Linked DNA regions of Homo sapiens. The protein of the gene in region 1 interacts with the protein of each later gene in a biochemical or structural test. Each region holds a gene or a part of one and is shown in the gene's direction. Other genes may lie near its edges.

Evidence for each region. Proteins that work in one complex are often made in the same cells at the same time.
Region 2: the proteins of SNTG2 (region 1) and ACVR2A interact in a test that uses a peptide from one of them, tested with the Homo sapiens proteins (one large-scale study listed by IntAct).
Region 3: the proteins of SNTG2 (region 1) and UQCRC2 interact in a test that uses a peptide from one of them, tested with the Homo sapiens proteins (one large-scale study listed by IntAct).
Region 4: the proteins of SNTG2 (region 1) and CLDN19 interact in a test that uses a peptide from one of them, tested with the Homo sapiens proteins (one large-scale study listed by IntAct).

Annotation. Positions count from the first base shown.
Region 1 is NC_000002.12:1,237,349-1,240,848, forward strand, and holds part of SNTG2 (gamma-2-syntrophin), read left to right. Parts: intron 1-539; coding exon 540-669; intron 670-2,389; coding exon 2,390-2,428; intron 2,429-3,500. UniProt on the Homo sapiens protein: Adapter protein that binds to and probably organizes the subcellular localization of a variety of proteins. May link various receptors to the actin cytoskeleton and the dystrophin glycoprotein complex.
Region 2 is NC_000002.12:147,851,529-147,855,028, forward strand, and holds part of ACVR2A (activin receptor type-2A isoform 1 precursor), read left to right. Parts: intron 1-3,500. UniProt on the Homo sapiens protein: On ligand binding, forms a receptor complex consisting of two type II and two type I transmembrane serine/threonine kinases.
Region 3 is NC_000016.10:21,963,361-21,966,860, forward strand, and holds part of UQCRC2 (cytochrome b-c1 complex subunit 2, mitochondrial precursor), read left to right. Parts: intron 1-2,047; coding exon 2,048-2,145; intron 2,146-3,500. UniProt on the Homo sapiens protein: Component of the ubiquinol-cytochrome c oxidoreductase, a multisubunit transmembrane complex that is part of the mitochondrial electron transport chain which drives oxidative phosphorylation.
Region 4 is NC_000001.11:42,732,593-42,734,914, reverse strand, and holds the end of CLDN19 (claudin-19), read left to right. Parts: 3' UTR 1-1,822; downstream 1,823-2,322. UniProt on the Homo sapiens protein: Forms paracellular channels: coassembles with CLDN16 into tight junction strands with cation-selective channels through the strands, conveying epithelial permeability in a process known as paracellular tight junction permeability.

The DNA of each region.
Region 1 (3,500 bases):
GGAAGAACTACTGAATTTGAGACGGTTGGTTGTTAATACTTTGCCATGATTGAGTTCTCAGCAAGTGGAGTGTCATGGAGCAGTGGAAGGGGACTATGTTCTCCCAAAGCTCCCCTGTCAATCAGAAGCACACAGGTGGTCCTAGAGAAGGGTGGATGCTGAGTGCAGAGGGTGCTGGGCTGCTCCAGCCTCACCCCATCAGGAGCTTTAAGTGCTCCATCCAAAGGGTCTTCGAAAGAATAACCAGTAAGAATCCTGCAGACAATAACTCCAGAATTTCAGGAGCACTGTTCTTTCCTTGACAAAGTGCTTTTCATGTTTCATCGAATTAGAAGTAGCTCCTGTTACCAAGGGAATTCGGGGTTTGGTCTTGGTCTCAGCGAGCCTGCTGACTGTACTGAGGCGCCTGAGGAAGTGGTGCAGTTGCCCCATGTCCTGGGTCCAGGGTAGAGCCCTGCTGAGCATCAGCCTCGAAACTCACGGAGGCAGGCCCGCTCCCGTCGCTGCGGGGCCTCCTGGACAGCTCTCTCCCTCCCCAGGTGGAATGCGTTCGAGGTGCTCGCCCTGGACGGAGTCAGCTCTGGGATCCTCCGGTTTTACACAGCCCAGGATGGCACCGACTGGCTGCGGGCGGTCTCAGCCAACATCAGGGAGCTGACACTTCAGAACGTGAGCACACGGTGTTTCTGAGTCTCTGCTGATGCTCATTCGTGCATGAAAAATAATGGAGACATCATGTTTCTGATGATTTATGATTAACCCGAAACAGAAAATCATGTACTTGTTTCAATGTGTCAAATCTATGTCTAAAAACATTAAAAATGAAGCCATCAGAATGTTTCCAAATCAAAGAGTAAGGCAATGTCTAACAGCTGAGAATTTCCCATCTGGTTTTGTCTTCCTCCTCCCCTCTGTCTGCCTCTGTCTCTCTCCCTCCCTTCCTCTCTCTTTCTCTCCACACACATATACAGAAATAGTTATATGTCATAATTTTATATTTTACCCAAATGCATTGATACAGTGTGACATTTTGAGTTGGGGAAACCTAATTGAGTTAAAAGTATAATTCTCCCAAACATTATGAAGATTTAGAAAAAGGCATAATTGAGCAAAAACATTACTTCTCAAATTTGTACTGCAGTCCCCCAGAAACGAAAAAGTATTCTGTCCCCTTAAGTGATGTTTGATATTAAAAGTCAACAGGATTTTAAAAATTAAAGAAATGAAAAGAGATGGGGTGGGAACGAAGACTTGATGACACGGGCGTTGCCTGGAGTGATGGGTGCCTGGACTCGGACATGGAGCCGTGGCCGCAGCCCTGGCAACTGTGGCAGGACTGGCCGTGCCTGGAGGCGGCCCTGGACCAGCCTTGCTGCCCTTGCTCCCTCTAAGCTGAGTTGCCCTGTAATTGCACTTCGATCCCTGCTCTGTTCCTTCGCAGCCTGGAGGCTGCAGAGGCTGGGTCCAGCTTGCAGACTGGCCAGGCGTGGCCCACCCTGCGGCCCTGCAGATGCACCCGCCCTGCCCCTGCCCTGCCCACCACCTCACGTCTCCCTTGCAACCTCCCTTCTTCCTGTGGCTGCAAAACAGAAGTTAACCTAACACTGGGGGAAGCAGCAATGTGTGACATTTCTCCTGTGAAGACCTCAGGGGCTTCCTTTCTGCAAGCAGAGAAGGAAGTACCAGGACCTTCCTAACATTGTAGTTTTCAAACGCAACACTTTAAATTCCAAAGTTATCTCAATAAATAGGGAAGAAAGGATGGTGCTTGACTTATATTTGCAGAAATGTTTGTGACGAGGAGCGCCCTTCAGTTCTGTCATTTCACAAATCAGCCCTCATAGGCAGGGCAGAGAAGTCAGACACCCCAATATTTCAGAACAGAAATGTGGACTCTGAGCTGCCTCCCGGCTGTGTGGCTGTGGGCTGTGGGAACATTATGATTCTGCACCTCCACTTCCTCGGTGAAATTTTGGAAAACAACATCTACCTCCATAGGTCATTGGGAGAACTAAATAAAAGAAAGAATATCAACTGTGATCACCGTAATTACCATCACAGTAATACTGACTCTCACAAGGTTATGTAGAGCAGAAATCATTTCCTCACTTTTCTCAGATATTGGAATTTAAGCACCTGCTCTTGAAGTGTAACTTCACTTACATAAATGCTGATATTTGAAAAAGAGGAATTGAAGCCTGCTAGTAAAGTTGTTTTCTACTGCTGCCATGTTTGTATTGACTCTGGCTAGGTCTTCAGATAGGAAATATGTCATTAAAGAGGCCTGTTTCCCAGGACAGAGCGTGGCTGATGACTTCCAGCTGTCACTCAGGTGAGCCATCCTGGTGTTGGTGGCTGTGGCCCTGACTCTTCTGCCTTCTCTCCACAGATGAAGATGGCGAACAAATGCTGCTCTCCTTCCGACCAGGTAGGGTTTGTATTTTCTGCTTCATGATGTAACACATCAGGTAGGGTTTGTATTTTCTGATTCATGATGTAACACATCTCGAAAAGCAGTCTCTGGTTTTTTGAAATTTGATTTGAAAATGTTGATAGGAAAACATTAGCACATTTCAGACTGCATTTGGTGGTCTCTGCCCTGCCTGTTAATTCTATAAAACTGCTCTTTCTGTGGGAATAGCATAGGTCATTCTGATCTCCTGTGTATAGATTATTTCTCTATTGGCAGTTATGTTTTGTAAAGAATCGTGATTTAAATGATGATTTAGATATGATTGTTTAAACTGAGAAGGGCTTTGAGATGACACACCTGTGTAATTTGAAATTTTAAGCATTATATTATTTTCTTAAATAAAATCCTTACTAGGAAAGCTTCATTCTCAGGAGGGCTTTGGCCCAGTGGGTGTTATTGCCAGTGGGTAGGATCCTGTCATCCCCAAATCCAGGCAGTTTGTTCACCTGGAGCCCAGAGCCCTTAACGTTGTCCTGGATTCAGGATAGCTACCTTTGTAGCCACCCTCAGGCCTGATTTTCTGCTCACTTCCCACGTCTATGAGTACTTAGGAAAACTCTATGGTAATCAAGCTGTTTCAATATCAGCCAAATCAGTTTTTAAGCCACTGTGTTATTCTTCTGTTTCCTTTATAATAAACTTATGATTTAACTTGTAATGTAAGGGAGTATGTTATTTATAGTTCATTCATTTTCTGGTTACATCTCTTAGGGGCGTAAGGAAGCATGCATCATAGCCTCAAGTTAAGAAAACTGAGAAAAACATGTTCGCTTTGCTTTAAATAGCGCACAAAAGACTTTAAATAGTGCTTAGCAAGAATATTTGAATTCACGATGGAGGACTTGAGAAGAGCAGGTCCTCTGCCTATGAAATATTTACTAAAACAATGGGAAAATAGGGCTGTGTTTTAAATTAAACCTCTCTAGTCAACATTTCTACATTAGAAAAGAAACACTAAGAATAAATGGTTCTTCTAACTTTTATCTCTTTTAATATTATTCTAAAATTACCATCAACTATTTTTGTT
Region 2 (3,500 bases), about 150 Mb from region 1:
ATCCTTTATTGTATATCAGTATGGTGCCTTTGTACATATTACTCTTCCTCTTCTACCTGGCTAACCCCTTTTTGGTTTTAAGACTGAGAAGTATCACCTCTTTAGAAACATTTTCTCTGTCACTCAACCCAGATTGAGTTAGTTGCTTTCTGTTCATCTAACACCTTGTAAATGACCTTGATTTCAGTAATAATTGCAAATGTTTACTTGCCTGTTTCCACTTTAGACTGTGCAAATGTTTACTTTCCTGTTTCTACTCTTTGAAGACATCTTTCCTTTATCCACACACCCATTCCTGGAACCTGGTACACAATAGGTGCTCAGCAAATGTTTATTAAATGAATGAAATGAAATTATTTCACTTCTCTGAGCCACGGTTGTCCTCTTAATGTATTGAAGTGGTGAACTTGGATTAGATGATCCCTGATTTTTTTTCCTACTCTGAAAGCTTTATGGTTCTATAATTTTAAGGTTAGAGTTCAGTGGTGACATTTTATTAAGAAAAGATGATTTTGCTCATTGTTTTGATATCTTTAAGTTATGTTCAAATTTAAATTTTTTTAAATAATTAAAATTAGAATTTGAATTATATAGATTTAGAGGGGATCTTAGGTATCCTCATGTTCCATGGCTTTCATACTTTTTTGACTGTAATACACAATAGGAATTACACATTGCATTATGACTTAGTTCCCATGTAGTAGTAGGGGTGTATGTATATATGTCTGTGTGCATCAGAAATGAAAGTTTCATGAACTGTGTACTCTTAACTATGTGCAGGACACTTATGTATTTTTATATTACATTTCATTTAAAAAACATTGATCGTGACCCATTAATTGATTCATTGACCAACTAATGGATTGTAAATCCCTAAAACCAGTGACCTAGTTCAACAATCCTTATTTCCTGTATTCAGTACTCTCTTAGTGGAAAAGGAAGCTTCATATGTAAATGTGTGCAATGAAAAATATATGCACTGAAAAATATGGTCATTAATTAATCTACAATAGAGACTGTGTGCCTAGGTATAGAATATAGGGAAAACTGGTCTCAAGGGAGAACATGGCTCTTCCCTGATTAAGGTCTTCTCTCTTTTGGACTAGTCGAATAAATTAAGCACACACGAAGGCGCTGAAACAACATTAGATTGTAATTTTGGGGAGTTGGGATTTTTTAATTTAGGAAAGACTTGCTGGACTTAGTACTGGAAAAAAAGTCTTAGACGGAGATTAGGAAGGATGTTAATATGAAGGAAAAGACACAAAATAGCATCAGGAACACAATAGCCATTTGAGAGTAAACTTGACCATGGATGAAGGCAAGGTGGGATGGAGAAATTTTGACTAAATCTGAGGAAGAGATTTGTGTGATGAAGAGAGTTCACAATTGCTTGAAGAAGTAGGACAATCTCAGGGGGTTAACCCTTAAATTCAAATGAAAAGTAATTAAAACTGAGGAGGTAAGAGTGGATGATACATATCCTGATGTATGTCCCAAATACCCCATATGTGGATATAGGACTGAAAAGCAACTCGAAGACTAAGGTAGAATGGTAGCACTACTAAATAAAATTGGTAAGGAAGTAATGAGCCAGAGGAAAATTGAAAGTGCCTTCATAACTAAAAAAGTTTACAGATAGATATAGTTTTAGATGATAAGCATGAATAGAAATAAAGACATGTATTTGGAAAAATAAGAGTACATAATAAAACATGATAACGTAATATTCTCTTAAAGAGGCAGACACTGTATGATGGATATGTCTTCATTGTGAAGTCTAGTTAAAGAATTCTAAACATTAGTGGCTCAATATGTTGTTTATGTTTAAATGATGGTCAAATTTCAGTAATTACTCATACTGGTCATCCAGATTATATTCTTTGAAATCTGTATGAGACCCTACAGTAAAATACACTGTTCTAAGGAAGTAGATTTAGATGCTTTTCTGAATTTGGTATATGGTATTCACGCTTGAAACCTAAACTTTTCAGTGACCATTCTTTTGGACTAGTTTTTTCTTTGGTTGGCTGTAGTCACACTGGGAATTACTTTATTCTCTAATATTGCTAAAGAAAATAAATGTAAAGCAAGAAGAGAGTTACTACATTAGAAGGACTGGCTACACATGTGGGGAGGGGTTGCCTTTCAAAAGATTTTAAAAATGAATCAAGTCTTTACATATTGTAATAAAAGTAAGCCTATTTATAAAGCTTAGAGGGAGGAGTTTTCGTAGTTATGATTATTAACTTTAAAATTTTTATTTTAAAGGAAAAGTTTATTGTTCTTCCCATCTTCATAACTATATGTGATATATCAAGCTTGCTCCAAGGCATTATTTCAAGAGGAAGGGGCATGGACAAGTTATGAGATCTTGGCACATTTCTAAAACTCTGAGATTAACTTTTAAAATTTGTAAACCAAGATGTATTAAATGAATTGATAACTCCACATAACATGGTAGCTGGTCCAGAGTAGATCTTACATATTAGTTTTTAATCTATCTTTAAGTCCCATTTAAAAGGATATGGTATGTAAAACATTAAAAAATATAGATTTGGTTCTTGGGGGATATTTACATTTGCAGGTTACTTATCAGTCAGTTAATGTGAAATAATACTCTGACTAAATGATACAGCCAAAGAACATATCATTATAGAGAGCCAGATAGCTGCCAATAAATATCTAGAATATTCAGATATCGTGGTTCCTTACAAAGAGTTCTTTAAGGTCTCACTGTTTTAGCATGCATTAAAAAGAAACAATGGACTAAATCGTCTCTATTTATTAGTGGGAATTTAAAATATCTTTTTTTCTTGGACAACTTCTCTTAAACTTTTTAAGTGTTTTAAAACTTTTTAGTAGAAGTAAAGTTTTGAAAGATTCTCAAGTCTGTTTTTTAGGTACCAGCTACTTTAAGCTTTGAAAACACAAAGCTATTCAATGACTGTACTTTGAGATCAATATTTTGAATGTGGTATAATATTTTGGACTAAAACTTAAGAGTCTGTCATTCAAATTCCTACTTTCCTACTGACTCTTCTTTGACCTTTGACAGCCATTAAGATTTCACTTTACTCACCCTAAATTAAAGAGGGTGAAATAGGTATTCATTCACTTAACAAATCAATATTGAACTACATGCTAGACACTATGGTAAGTGCTTGGGATACATTATTAAACATGAAGACAGATATGATTATGCCTTTCTGAAGCTTATAGTCATAAAGTAAGTAGTCAAATGAACAACATAATTACAGATTGTCATACGTGCTCGGACAGAAACTAACAGGGTGCCGAGAGGATTACTCTTTATTTGCCTTATCACATATCACATCTGTTTACTTTATCTGCCTATTTCTTTTTTTTTTGAGACTGAGTCTCGCTCTGTTGGCCAGGCTGGAGTGCAGTGGTGCAATCTTGGCTTACCACAACCCCAGCCTTCCAGTTCAAGTGATTCTCCTGCCTCAGCCTCCTGAGTAACTGGGACTACAGGCATG
Region 3 (3,500 bases), on another chromosome or scaffold:
CTTTTGTTTCTAAACATTTATAATCATTTTTCATGTTTGATGGTAAGTAAATTGTTTGTAAGATCCTAGAAGTTTTTCCTGTTTCCTTCCCAATGTTTTGTTTTTGTTTGTTTGTTTGTTTGTTTTTGAGACAGGGTGTTGCTTGTTGCCCAGGCTGGAGTGCAGTGGCACAATCTCACTGCAGCCTGAACCTTCTGGACTCAGGTGATCCTCCTACCTCAGCCTCCTGAGTAGCTGGGACTACAGGCACACACCACCGCACCCTGCTAATTTTTATTTTTATTTTTTTATAGAGATGAGGTCTCACTCTATTGCCCAGGCTGGTCTCGAACTCCTGGGCTGAAGTGATCCTCCCACCTCAGCTTCCCAAAGTGCTGGGATTACAGGCGTGAGCCACTGTGCCTGACCCCTAGTGATTTTTAAGAGTTGTTTTGCTTACCCCAAATCCTACACCAGTTTATTGCTGCTGCTATTATTGCTTACTATTGTATTGCTATTATTGTTTAGCCATCTCCTCTTTATTGAGTCTTTCCAAAGTAAGTAACTTAATTTTTTTAATAGGAATCTTTTTTGCATTCATATTTTATGTTTATATAATGTCTAATTATATAATCTTGACAAGTACAACTGGTAATACAAGTCTGTAAGCAAGCGCCGCTGACTCTTGGGAGTCATACAACTTCTGGTGGGAGCAGAAATGTGCAGGAAGAGCAGAAATAGCTCAACTCAGTGGTTCAGCATGGGACAGGCTCCCCTCCACATGCAGGCCTGGGGACTGATGTTATTTCATGATGATGCTTGGTGTCACAGAGGAGCATTATCTTTGTTGCTCAGGATTTCTACTGAAGAAATAGATAGAATAGTACAATTTTAGAAAAGATGACCTATGTGTCCAGAGTGGCTTCTTCCCCACTGGCGGCAGTGAGGCACCAGCCTGCATCTATTCTGCCTGAACAGTTACTGTGTAGTCTCCTGGCTGGTGTCAGCCTCCAGGTTTACGTCTTGAGTCCATCTCCCACACGGCCATTACAGTGATCCTTCTGACGTGAAAGTAAGCCTTCTTATTATCTATGGGATAAAGTCCAAACAGCATATACGTATATGGCCTTGCGTGATCTTACCCCAGCCCACTTCTCTTACTTTATGCTCTACCCTCTTCTCCTTCCAGCTGCAATTCCCATTTGAATCAAATTATTGTTATACTTTATGCCTTTGTTTTGTCTGCTTCCTGTGCCTAAAATGCTGTTCCCAAATGATTTCCCCTGGGAAACACCAGCTCATTCTGTAAGATGGATCCCACATATTACTTGTATTAATTGTTTTCCAATTCCCACTGCCCTTGCCTTGTACCTCTACTGCACTTTTGACACACTGCCGACATTGCACCCATAATACTTTATTTCACAGTTTTTCCTCTTAAAATTTGAGGGCAGGCATTGTATGTTCCACATCTCTGTATTTCTAGCACCTAGCACAGTGCCTCGCATAGGCAAGTTGCCAGGTAATGAGCAACTGAAGGAAATACTGCAGGCAAAAAGGCATTGAAGCAAGAAAGCAGGGAAAGCACCAAGCACCACAGAGGAGTAAGTCCCAGTGGAAGCTCCCATTGGTCCCCTGAAAGCTACCTGACAATCTCCTTATTACCTAGAGAGGAAACCTAGGAGTAAGTAAAATTCAGATTAAATGACTTGTCCAAGGTCACATGGCAAGATGGCGGCAGAACCATAACTAGATGGGGACTTCCCAAAACCCAGGCCAGTATACCTTCCAAGTGATACCAGCTAGGTTAAAGTTAGAAAAGTGGTTTAGGTGGACTCCAGTATATAGAAGCTGCTGCCATGTAATCTTTTTTATTTTTTTCTCAGCACATTCTACTGGCAGAAACTGGCAGTTACTAGAGGTTAAATAATAATAAATTTTAAGTCCTCTTAACATATGAATGCCAGAAGATGACCAAATTTGTATAGGCTTGTTGCTTTCTAGGTTTTAAAAATGTTGTCTTTACTGAAAGTGCATTTCCCTAAATGCTTCTTCACTTATCTCACAGATGTCATTGAAAATTTGCATGCAGCAGCTTACCGGAATGCCTTGGCTAATCCCTTGTATTGTCCTGACTATAGGATTGGAAAAGTGACATCAGAGGAGGTACCAATAAAACATATTTTGAAATGTGCTTGTTTTTCACATTAAATTGAACATCTCCCATTTCAGGTTTGTTTGTTAATTTTTCCTTTTATCTTCTAACTTTAAGAAATTCAGCGTGCTAGCTTTTTCATCCACCTGCTTTTTAACTAAAATTTTATCTGAACAATTTTTGTGTCTCCTTTAAGAAATGTTTTCATGACTAAAGGGACATGATCATTACAGAAAAATTAAAAAGTAAAATCAAACAAAATGAAGGGAAAGAAAACATCTCACATACCTAAAGGCACTCAGTGTTAATACCTGGTATATTTTCTTCTAAACCGTTTTCTGTGTGTATGTATCTTTTTTGTTTGTTTGTTTTAAATACGGGGTCTTGCTGTGTTGCCTAGGCTGGTCTTGAACTCTTAAGCTCAAGCAGTCCTTCTGCCTATGCCTCTCAAAGTGCTGGGATTACAGGCATGAGCCATTGCACCCAGCCTGTGTATCTTTTTTAAACAGTATTTAAATGTTTAAGTATCATAATAGGGGCTGGGCCCAGTGGCTCATGCGTGTAATCTCAGCACTTTGGGAGGCCAAGACAGAGGGATCACTTGAGGCCAGGAGTTCAAGACCAGCCTGGGCAACATAGCAAGACCCTGTCTCTACAAAAAAAAAATATATATATATGTGTGTGTGTATACATATATATAAAATAGGTCCTTTGACTAAAACTCTTTGGTCTCTCTGAATTTGTAAATAAGACTTGAGCCCACTTCCTTAGCTCCTGTTCCATCCTCGCTCACTCATTCACGTTCTTCAGCACACCAGCCTCCGTTTGCTGGCTATAGGGGTTTGTCACATGCCACAGCCATATGTGCATCTTAGAACTTTGTTTCCAAAACATGAAACATTGAATGCTAAATCTACAAGTGTAGATATGTGCGTATAATCTTAATTTCCTATTCCTACCACCCAGACCCAAAAACAAATTTTATCAAAAGACATTAAGAGAAAAATTTGTAATTATCAACACCTTCAAAGTATATCTGACTCAAAAATTCAAGGTTTTTATTCTCGTTTTATTCTTAGTTAGCTGTTACAGAAAACTAAACTGTATCCCTTGCTCTTTTTGACTTATCAATTAACAGTTTGATGCCTTTCATTCATATGGCACTTTTATTTAGAAATTTTAACTTACATCATCCAACTTGAACAGGCAGCCGTTTTCATAAGACTGGACTCTAATGAGTTTTGAAATTTTTCAGAAATCAAATTCACCCTCATGAAGATGTGTCATTAAGTTAGCTAAAACTTAGCAAAAGTTTATCTACAAGGATGGCTATTGTAATACTAGTTTATAATTGTGAAAAATTAGA
Region 4 (2,322 bases), on another chromosome or scaffold:
TTGGGCAGAAAGATGAGGAGACAGAGGTCCAGGGTGGGTTACATAGCACATCCAGGGCTAAGCAAGAAATAATTCAGAGGTCCTACCCTCTGTCTAGGGACCCCCCTCCCAAGCCTGGCCTTGGCCTTGGCACAAAGTCCTCCTTGATAGGAGATCCCACTCACTCCTGGAGGCTGCCCCTGAGGCTTGGCCCAGCTCTAGGAGCAGTCCCCAGGGTCAGGGAGCCCCTGGTGTGGAAAGAGGCCCCAAGGTAGTAAACCCTGCCCCTGTTACTGTGCTCCAGAGACCTCCTAAGGGAAGGGACAGTTCCTGGAAGGCCCTCCAGCTGGATGCTGGGGATCAGCGATAGGTGAGGGGACACAGTGTAGGAGCTCCCCATGTAGAAAAGGGAATGTGGGGAGGGCGTTAGGAGCTTGCAGGCATTAGGACTGTCCTGAGCAAGGTCTGCAGCCCCCAGCTCTGCTCACCCCGAATCCTGCCCCTTGTTTCCACACCTACCATTCCTCCTCTCCTGATCCCCAGCATCCAGCTGAGGTCCAAGGTCTTTGTCCTAGAATCAGAGTGGGGAGGGGACAGCCTGGGGCTGCCCAGAGACTGTGGGTGGAGCTGCCTGCTGCACTCAGCAGTGCGGTCAGAGAAGGGCTTTTGGTCTTGAAGTCCAGGTACCATCCCCCCTTAGCATACAGGGGGAAGGGCCTGAGAGGAATGTAAGGAAACCAGCCCAGATCAGTCCCAAGGCCAGAGTCCTTTGTCCTACATCTCCCTGAACCAGAGTGTGCCCTGCCCCTCATGCTCAGACCTCTCCCACCCCAAACCCTCTCCCGGGACTCAGTCTCCCTGGCCACTGCGTATCAGGCTTCTGGGGAAAGCATCCATCACAGAACCTCCCCTTCCCTGCCACGCACCTTCCTTGGCCAGCTCCATTCTGGCCTCCTCCACCACCTGCCTTGTGACCACATCTCCCACCACGTCCCCAGATCTCAAGAACGCAGCTCAGCTTCTCCTTCGAGCTTGACTCTGAGAGGGAAAGTGACGGAAACCAAGTCAGATGAGATGACTGCCATGTACACTGCAGTCAAGGGCAGGGAGGGGAGGAATGACACAAATGGCAGGGAGCTGCTGGGGGACTGACCCCTCGGCGCCTGGCCTGGCCGGTGCTGCACATCCACCGGGGCACAACAGGGACTTGTCCAGCCTCTGGTCAGAGGATGTGGCCACCTGACCCTAAATAGGTTCCCCAGAGTCCTGCCCCTCTAATGAATGAGAACTGCAGGAGTTTCTCCTCTGGGTGCCTGAAGCTATAGTGCAATGGTTCCCAACCCTGCATGCACATTCGAATCACCTGGGGGCACAATGCCTAGGCTCCAACCCCAGACACTCTTATTTCATTGGTCTGGGTGGACCTGGCATCAGAAGTCATGTAGCTCCTCAGGGGACTGTAGTGTGTGGTCAGCACTGAGGGCTCCTCTATGAGGCCTCAAGCCCAGGTGACTCTGTGAGGTCTGCAGAGGGAGAAAAGAACCCACAAGGGAAGAGGTGGAGGTCAGGCACGGTGGCTCACGCTTGTAATCCCAGCACTTTGGGAGGCCGAGGTGGGTAGATACCTGAAGTCAGGAGTTCGAGACTAGCCTGGCCAATATGGTAAAACCCCGTGTCTATTAAAAATACAAAAATTAGCTGGCTGTGGTGGTGGGCACCTGTAATCCCAGCTACTCGGGAGGCTGAGGCAGGAGAATCGCTTGAACTCGGGAGGTGGAGGTTGCAGTCAGCCAAGATCGTGCCACTGCACACCATCCTGGATGACAGAGCAAGACTCCATCACAAAAAAAAAAAAAAAAAAGAAAAGAAAAGAGGTGGGTAGCCGGGCGTGGCGGCTCATGCCTGTAATCCCAACACTTTGGGAGGCTGAGGTGGGTGGGTCACAAGGTCAGGAGTTCGAGACCAGCCTGGCCAACATGGTGAAACCCTGTCTCTATTTTTAAAAAATACAAAAATTAGCCGGCTGTGGTGGTGGGCACCTGTAATCCCAGCTACTCGGGAGGCTGAGGCAGGAGAATTGCTTGAACTCAGGAGGCGAAAGCTGCAGTGAGCCAAGATTGTGCCACTGCACTCCAGCCTGGGCAACAGAGCAAGACTCCATCTCAAAAAAGAAAGAAAGAAAAGAGGTGGGGAGAGGAAGCCCCACTCACTCCTGCCTTTCCCAATACCAGGCTGTTCTGTGACACGCCCACATCTTCCCAATCAATTCCCCTTTTGGCTGAAAAAACGTTGAGTTTGAATCCTGTCCCACACAGCCAGAAGAGCCCTACCTAACAGGATTTG